Homo sapiens: one gene and its partner. The protein of the gene in region 1 binds, or shares a complex with, the protein of each later gene. Each region holds a gene or a part of one and is shown in the gene's direction. Other genes may lie near its edges.

What was found.
Region 2: GPKOW (region 1) and SNRPF share a complex: the UniProt entries of both Homo sapiens proteins name them as parts of the minor spliceosome.

Annotation. Positions count from the first base shown.
Region 1 is NC_000023.11:49,116,941-49,120,889, reverse strand, and holds part of GPKOW (G-patch domain and KOW motifs-containing protein), read left to right. Parts: intron 1-1,075; coding exon 1,076-1,185; intron 1,186-3,079; coding exon 3,080-3,293; intron 3,294-3,727; coding exon 3,728-3,860; intron 3,861-3,949. UniProt on the Homo sapiens protein: RNA-binding protein involved in pre-mRNA splicing. As a component of the minor spliceosome, involved in the splicing of U12-type introns in pre-mRNAs.
Region 2 is NC_000012.12:95,856,834-95,860,433, forward strand, and holds the start of SNRPF (small nuclear ribonucleoprotein F), read left to right. Parts: upstream 1-2,118; 5' UTR 2,119-2,240; coding exon 2,241-2,243; intron 2,244-3,600. UniProt on the Homo sapiens protein: Plays a role in pre-mRNA splicing as a core component of the spliceosomal U1, U2, U4 and U5 small nuclear ribonucleoproteins (snRNPs), the building blocks of the spliceosome.

The DNA of each region.
Region 1 (3,949 bases):
GAGTTCAAGACCAGCCTGGCCAACATGGCGAAACCCCATCACTAGTAAAAATACAAAAATTAGCTGGGCATGGTGGCACGTGCCTGTAATCACAGCTACTCGGGAGGCTGAGGCAGGAGAATCGCTTGAACCCAGGAGACTGAGGTTGCAGTGAGCTGAGATCATGCAACTGCACTCCAGCCTGGGCAACACAGCAAGACTTCATCTCAAGAAAAAAAAAAAAGAAAACCTTGGAGTCATCCTCAATTCCTCTCTTTATTTCGTGCCCCATACAATATGCCAGCACAATCCTATCATCTTTTTTCAAAATGACACCCAGAACTGACCACTTCTCACCACCACCAATACCACTGCAAAGGGCTGAGCCACCAGCATCTCTCATCTGGACTATTAGAGTAATTTCCTCACTGGTCCCTCTTGTGGCTCCCACCTGGCTCAAGGTCCTCTGACTCCTGCCCAGCTCTCCTGATTTGGTCTCTTCCCCACCCTTCTCTGCTGTCTACTCTCACTCTCTCCATTTCAGTCATGGTGACTTTCATGATACCCCTCACACATACCAAGCCTTGTCCGGCCTCAGGGCCTTTGCTGTTACTATGCTTTCAGCTTGGGACACTTTCTTCTCATATCCTCATGGCTCCCTCTGCTGTCATCTCCTGATCTCTGCTTAAATGTCAACCCAGTGGCACTCCCTCTCCATCCCTCTGCATCTTCTTACCCTGTTTTCTTGTTCTTTACATCACCACCTGACATATCATGTTTTCTGGGTTTTATTTATAGTATGTCTCCACAACTAGATCAGAAGCTCTGCAGGGGTAGGGGTTTTTGTCTGTTTGGTTCACAGCTTCATCCCCAGTACCTAGAACAGTACTTGCCATAGACAAGGTGCTTTATATTTGTTGAAGGACTGAACATGGAGGAGTACAGTGAGGGATGGAAAGAGGAAATCAAAACTCACCCTTGAGCTGATTGGAAAAGACGCGTAGCAGGTCTCCCAGTGGGGGGCAGCAAGTGCACTTCAAATAGAAGACCCAGTGTAAGCAAAGCCTGACCCTCCTTCCTCTACCTGAACCTGTAGGTGCCAGAGGAGGCTAATTATGAGGCGGTCCCCGTGGAGGCCTATGGGCTGGCCATGCTGCGGGGCATGGGCTGGAAACCTGGCGAGGGCATCGGCCGCACCTTCAATCAGTGAGTTCTGGGATAGGGTCGAGGGGACAGACAGATCATCAGGCTGCAATCAAGATCCCCAGGGTCACTGCCAAACCAGAACCACCTAGGCAGGGAGGGAGGATACATTATCGCCCTAACTAATTCAGCAGCCCCTTCCACTACTGTTTTAAACTCCCATTTGCCCTTTGAAACTCTAATAGAATCCCATTTATATAAAGTTTGCCTCTAGGGACATCAATTTCCTCATCTGAAAAATGGGGGTAATAGTACTGACTTCATAGGTCTGTTGTGAGAGTTAAATGAAATTATACACATAGGCCAGGTAGTGGCTCATGCCTGTAATCCCAGCACTTTCGGAGACTGAGGCAGGAGGATCACTTAACTCCAGGAGTTTGAGACTGGCCTGGGCAACATAGGGAGGCCCCATCTCTACAAAAGATTAATTAATTTTAAGAAAAGAAATTAGGGCCGGGTGTGGTGGCTCACACATATAATCCCAGCACTTTGGGAGGCTGAGGTGGGTGGATCACGAGGTCAGGAGATCGAGACCATCCTGGCTAACACGGTGAAAGCCCATCTCTACTAAAAAAAAAAATACAAAAAATTAGCCGGGCATGGTGGCGGGTGCCTGTAGTCCCAGCTACTCAGGAGGCTGAGGCAGGAGAATGGCGTGAACCTGGGAGGCGGAGCTTGCAGTGAGCCGAAATTGCACCACTGCATTCCAGCCTGGGTGACAGTGAGACTCCGTCTCAAAAAAAAAAAAAAAAAGGAAAAGGAAAAGAAATTATATACATAAAGCACATACAGTAGGCCCTGACCCCAAGAAAGCGTAGACTAAACATTTGCTATTGTCATGCAGACTTGCAACCCTTTCTTCACAATTGCAAACTCAATAATTCTGAAAACCAAACATTTTTTCATAACCCATTGGCAGCCAAATATGACCTGAATTGGCGTTTTTTTTTTTTTTTTTTTTTTTTTTTTGAGATGGAGTCTCTGTCTGTCACCCAGGCTGGGATGCAGTGGCGCAATCTCGGCTCGCTGCGACCTCTACCTCCTGAGTTCAAGTGATTGTCCTGCCTCAGCCTCCTGAGTAGCTGGGATTACAGGCATGCACCAGCATGCCTGGTTAATTTTTGTATTTTTAGTAGAGATGGGGTTTCCCCATGTTGACCAGGCTGGTCTTGAACTCCTGACCTTAGGTGATCTACCAACCTCGGTCTCCCAAAGTGCTGGGATTACAGGCATGAGCCACCATGCCCAACCATGTTGAGTATTTATAATCCGGTTTCTCCTGCTCGGTGTGAATGTTCATATGATTTCCCCTGTAGAAATAGTATATTTGGTTACAGCGATCTGCCTCTGATCTCACTGTAGATATTATGTAATAGATGGTATATGCAGCATGTTATTAGGTTGAACCAAATGAAATTGCTGTTTCTGTAGGTCAAAAACAGTCCTAATATGAGATCAGAAAGGGCAACCTTGAAAATATTGGTGGGGGCTGGACACGGTGGCTCACACCTGTAATCTCAGCACTTTGGGAGGCCAAAGAGGACGGATCACCTGAGGTCAGGAGTTCAAGACCGGCCTGACCAACATGGTGAAACCCTGTCTCTACTAAAAATACAAAAATTAGCCGGGCATGGTGGCATGCGCCTGTAACCCCAGCAACTCGGGAGGCTGAGGCAGGAGAATCCCTTGAACCTGGGAGGTGGAGGTTGCATTGAGTCGAGATCGAGCCATTGTACTCCAGCCTGGATGACAAGAGCAAAACTCCATCTCCAAAAAAAAAGAAAAGAAAAGAAAATGTCAATGGGGCGGGTGGGGCGGGTTTGGGCAGGAAGAGGAAGTAAATAAGGTGTTGAAGACTGTTGCATCCTCTCCAACAAACCCATATTCCTCCCTGCAGAGTAGTGAAGCCCCGTGTCAACTCACTGAGGCCCAAGGGGTTAGGGCTGGGTGCCAACCTGACCGAGGCCCAGGCCTTGACCCCCACTGGCCCCTCCCGCATGCCAAGACCAGATGAGGAGCAAGAGAAAGATAAGGAAGATCAGCCTCAAGGGCTGGTGCCTGGAGGAGCTGTGGTGGTTCTTTCTGGCCCTCACCGAGGCCTCTATGGGAAGGTAAGGAACCAAGATATCCCGGGAGCCCAAAACAGGCAGCAGGGAAGGTTGATCCGAGGGTCAGATGGAGGAATAATTGGATTTGAGGTAGAAAGGCTGGGACTCCTAGTCTTTTAGGTCTGCTTGGCCCACTGCCTCACTCAGTAACCCAGGACCACTTGCTGGCCTTTGTGAGCCTCAGTTCCCAGCTAAAAGGAAGAGAATGCCATATGCCACAAGTCCCTGAAGATTAAATGCTTAAAGGATCCAAGGAAGCCCCACAGTCAGCTGAGGGAGACACAGGAACCAGACCTGGTCCCACTTCTCAGGGGTCAGAGTCTGGTTGGGGAGACAGAGGAAGCAGGCCTCTTAGAGGTAAGGGGTTGACATCTTGGTCCTAGGAATGTGGGTGGAGTCCACAACCCCTACCTGACTTCTTCCCCTCAACACTTTAGGTGGAAGGCCTTGATCCTGACAATGTTCGGGCCATGGTTCGTCTGGCTGTGGGGAGCCGGGTGGTGACTGTTAGTGAGTACTACCTGCGGCCTGTCTCCCAGCAGGAGTTTGACAAGAACACCTTGGATCTCAGTGAGTGAGCCTCTTGTAGAGCTAGGGGAGTTGGCAACGCATTCCTAGGGGTGGCAGGGCCTGGCTAATGGGGTGGTTTTAGATCTGCA
Region 2 (3,600 bases), on another chromosome or scaffold:
GGACAACACAGCGAGACCCTATCTCTACAAAAAAAATTAAAAAATTAGCTGGGTGTGGTGGCACATGCCTGTGGTCCCAGCTACTCGGGAGGCTGAAGTGGGAGGATCTCTTGAGCCCAAGAGGTCAAGGCTGCAGTAAGCCAAGATCTCACCTCTACAATCCAGCCTGGGTGACAGAATGAGACCCTGTCTCAAATTAAAAAAAAAATTTAACATGAAAAGAAAAACCAACCTTAAATACACTATCTTTACAGAATGTGTTTACTGTAGTATTTCGTTTCACTTCACTGAGAAAACAGCTAAAGAGTCAGGCTTCTAAAACACATATTGAGTCTTTGAAAGGTAGCTTCATGAAGTAGAAAAAGCAGAGTTTTGAAACCCAGGTATGTGGTCCTGAGCAAGCTATGAGGCAGAAGAATAGCGGCTGGAAGCAGGGAACCTAGGGCCCATCCATGCTGACTGGGTATCAGAGGCTACTCCCATTTCAACCCCTCCTTTTTCTGCGTGGCAGTTGAAAAATGAAAGTACCTCTTATTGGTCCCCTCCCGCAACCAATCAGACTGGTTGTGGGCCAATGGGCAACCTCTAGAGGGTATTTAAAGCCCAGAAAATTCTATAACCAATGCTCTTGAGCCGCTTGCACCAGGCGGTGCCCACCCTGTAGAGTGTACTTTCATTTAAAATAAATCTCTGCTTTCGCTGCCCTGCTTTGTTTGTGCGTTTTGTCCAATTCTTTGTTGAAAACGCCAAGAACTCGGACAGCTACCCTCAACTGGTAACAGTTACCTGCTGGGCCTACTTCCTCATCTCTTAAACGGGGCTGTCACCCCGAATCAGACAGTAAGGTAAGATTTCCACGATTGTTGAAAAAGCCTGACACATAGTAGGAACTCAAAGTCTATACAAAGACTTAAAGTTCATAAAACAATAGACAAACGGAGAAATCCACTGAAGTTTAGGGTGAATAAATCTAATAACTGTTTGGTAAAAACTACACTGACAATCATTGTCTGGTCAGTGTTCAACATTTACGTGAAACACTGAGCTTTTACAAGGCCAAGCCCCGTTTTACGTTAAATTCTCGCAACCACCCTGAGGATGGTTCCGTTTTTAAAGCCGCGTTCCTGCCGAGGAAACAATGGCCCTCGGGGTTAAGACACTGCCCAACACCGGCCGCGCCTGATAGACGCAGGTTCCGAATGCAGGCCCCCTCCAAAGTCTTGCCCACTGCTCCACAATGCCTCAACACCCAACATTTCATCCTCAACTCCAAATCCATCTCTTCAGGGCCGCAAAAAAGCGTTACTTCCCAAAGGGCGTGTTCTCCAAGAACTGCATTTAGCATTTCAGATCAGAGTGACCCGAACTCAATAGGATTACGACAAAAACTAGTGAGATTCAGATAACACCGTTACATCGAAAGTTTTAATCCGTGACAGAGGAAATATTGCTTACGCCCTTAGGTAATTTCAAATGCACGTATGAAGGCCGTGCGGGTTTCTGCAGGCGAAGCAAAAGAAAGGTGGGGCCGGCAGGGTCGTGGGGCGGGGGTGGGGCATGACACCGTATCCCAGACGCAACTCGACCTCGTTTGCAAGAAATTCTGTATCCAACTCTCTTCAGTGCGTTTCGCCGCCCCTAGTCTAGTCTGGCTAGCCCCCAATTCCTTTAAAAGGGGTTAAAACGGGTGTTGCAGAAGAGAGAACACTCAGGTAGAAAGGGCCTGCGGCAGAGGCGCCCCCAAATCATGGAACCTGTTGGAAGAGTGAGGAAGGAACTCTGGGACCCCGAACATTCTCACGGGTGTAAAAAGACAAAGTAAATCCCCATTAGCCAAGTTGGGGAGAAGTCACATCCGTTACACAGCCTCTCCCAGACCGCCCTCTAGGAAGGACACCACATTTAAAAACACCGGCCTGCCTCCAGTCCTTGGCTGCCTCACAGCGATGCTCAGAGCCGGTTTCCCAAGGTCCGCGCGCCGCCTGCAAGGCGCAAACCCAAGCCGCTGCTGGTTGCTAGGAGATACTGGGCCAGCCATCTCCTCCAATCAGCACGCACCTCTTTGCGTCCAATCACAGAGGCAGGAAGGGCCGTGGTGGGAGGTGAAAGGTCATAGTCCTGTTTGGCGGCCATTTCTCTTGAAACTGCGGCTCGGGACCTGCGGTACCTGCTGTAGTCACGAGGGACGGGCGGCGGCCTGGTCGGCAGAGAGTAGCCTGCAACATTCGGCCGTGGTTACGATGGTAAGGAGAAAGAGAACGGCGGGAGAAGCGGGGAGAAAGAGAAGGAGGGAGACCAGCCTCGCGGGGCCTGCTGGTTCCTTCGCGCGTTTCCCATTCATCCGCGTGAGGCGCCGCGCACCCTGTCGCCAGCTCCTTTCACTCTGCTTTTAGGTTTCTGAGGCGCGTGCTCCTCCCGATGCCTTTCTTTTCCTAGGAGTGCCCGTGCCTTCTTCTCTTTGTTTGAATCCGGGCCTGGGGTATTCTTAGTTGGGGCTATAGGGTCGGGGTAAAAGTCAAAGAGAATTTGCACTTCCCACTTAACCACACTCCAGAATTCACTTTCATTCCGTGAAAGTAATGATACGGCCATGCTCTAGATTAACTCACTTGGGTGGGGAAGACAGACATTAGTCAAAAAATAACAAGTATGTAATTGCAAATAATAAGTGCTAAGAACAATGCAGACAGGAGGCTGTGAGGGTGCGCGTTAGACATTAGAGGCTTAGTCAGAGATGGCCTCCCTAGGAGGTGGAATTTAACTCGAAGCCTAAGTGTCATGAAATACGACCCTTTAAAGAGCAGGAGGAGGAGTGTACCGAGCACAGGGAATAGGAGCATAAGACCTGCGGCCGGAAAGAAAGCTTGGTCATTTGGAGAAATTGACAGAAAGGTATAGCCACTTGCGCGAATAGTGGTTAAGAGATGGTATCGGAGGAGCAGGCGTTGGGCAGGACCTCTTAGGCTGTATTGGGAGGTTTTGATTGTACTCCAAATCAATTTAAAATGATTCGGTTGGAAGCCATTGGATCATTTTAAGCAGAAATATGACAATCTGATGTGCACTTTAAAAAATCATAGTTACTGTGGTGGATAACAAATTGGAGAATGAAAACTGGAGACCCATTAGGTTATTGGAGTAATCGCCATATCAAGATCACTCCGAATATGCTCATGTTAGAGGGGGTTAGTAGCCAAGTTTCTTAGTTCTCTTCTTTGTTTGACTGGTGAGTGAGCAGAAGAGGGCAAAAACCGAAATCACTGGAGATGTTAATGGTTTGCTGAATAAATAGACATTAAGTAATTGCTGTAAGTAAGAGGCGGTGCTACTGACAAAGTCAGATAGGACCTAGCCCTAGCTTCCCCAGTTAAATACTGTCAAGCGTGATCTGCCCTCTGCTTCCTTCTGTAGTTTTATATTTGGGGCTTTGACTGACAATGCTGAATTGTATGTCCCCAAAACCACCTTGTTGCATCACTCTTCCCTCCTTTTACATAAGTAGCTAGCCTTGCCTGGAACAGCATTTTTTCCCGCTCTGGAAATAAACTCTTATCCTTTAAAACTGAGGTATTACTTATTTCAGGCAACCTTTCCTTTTTC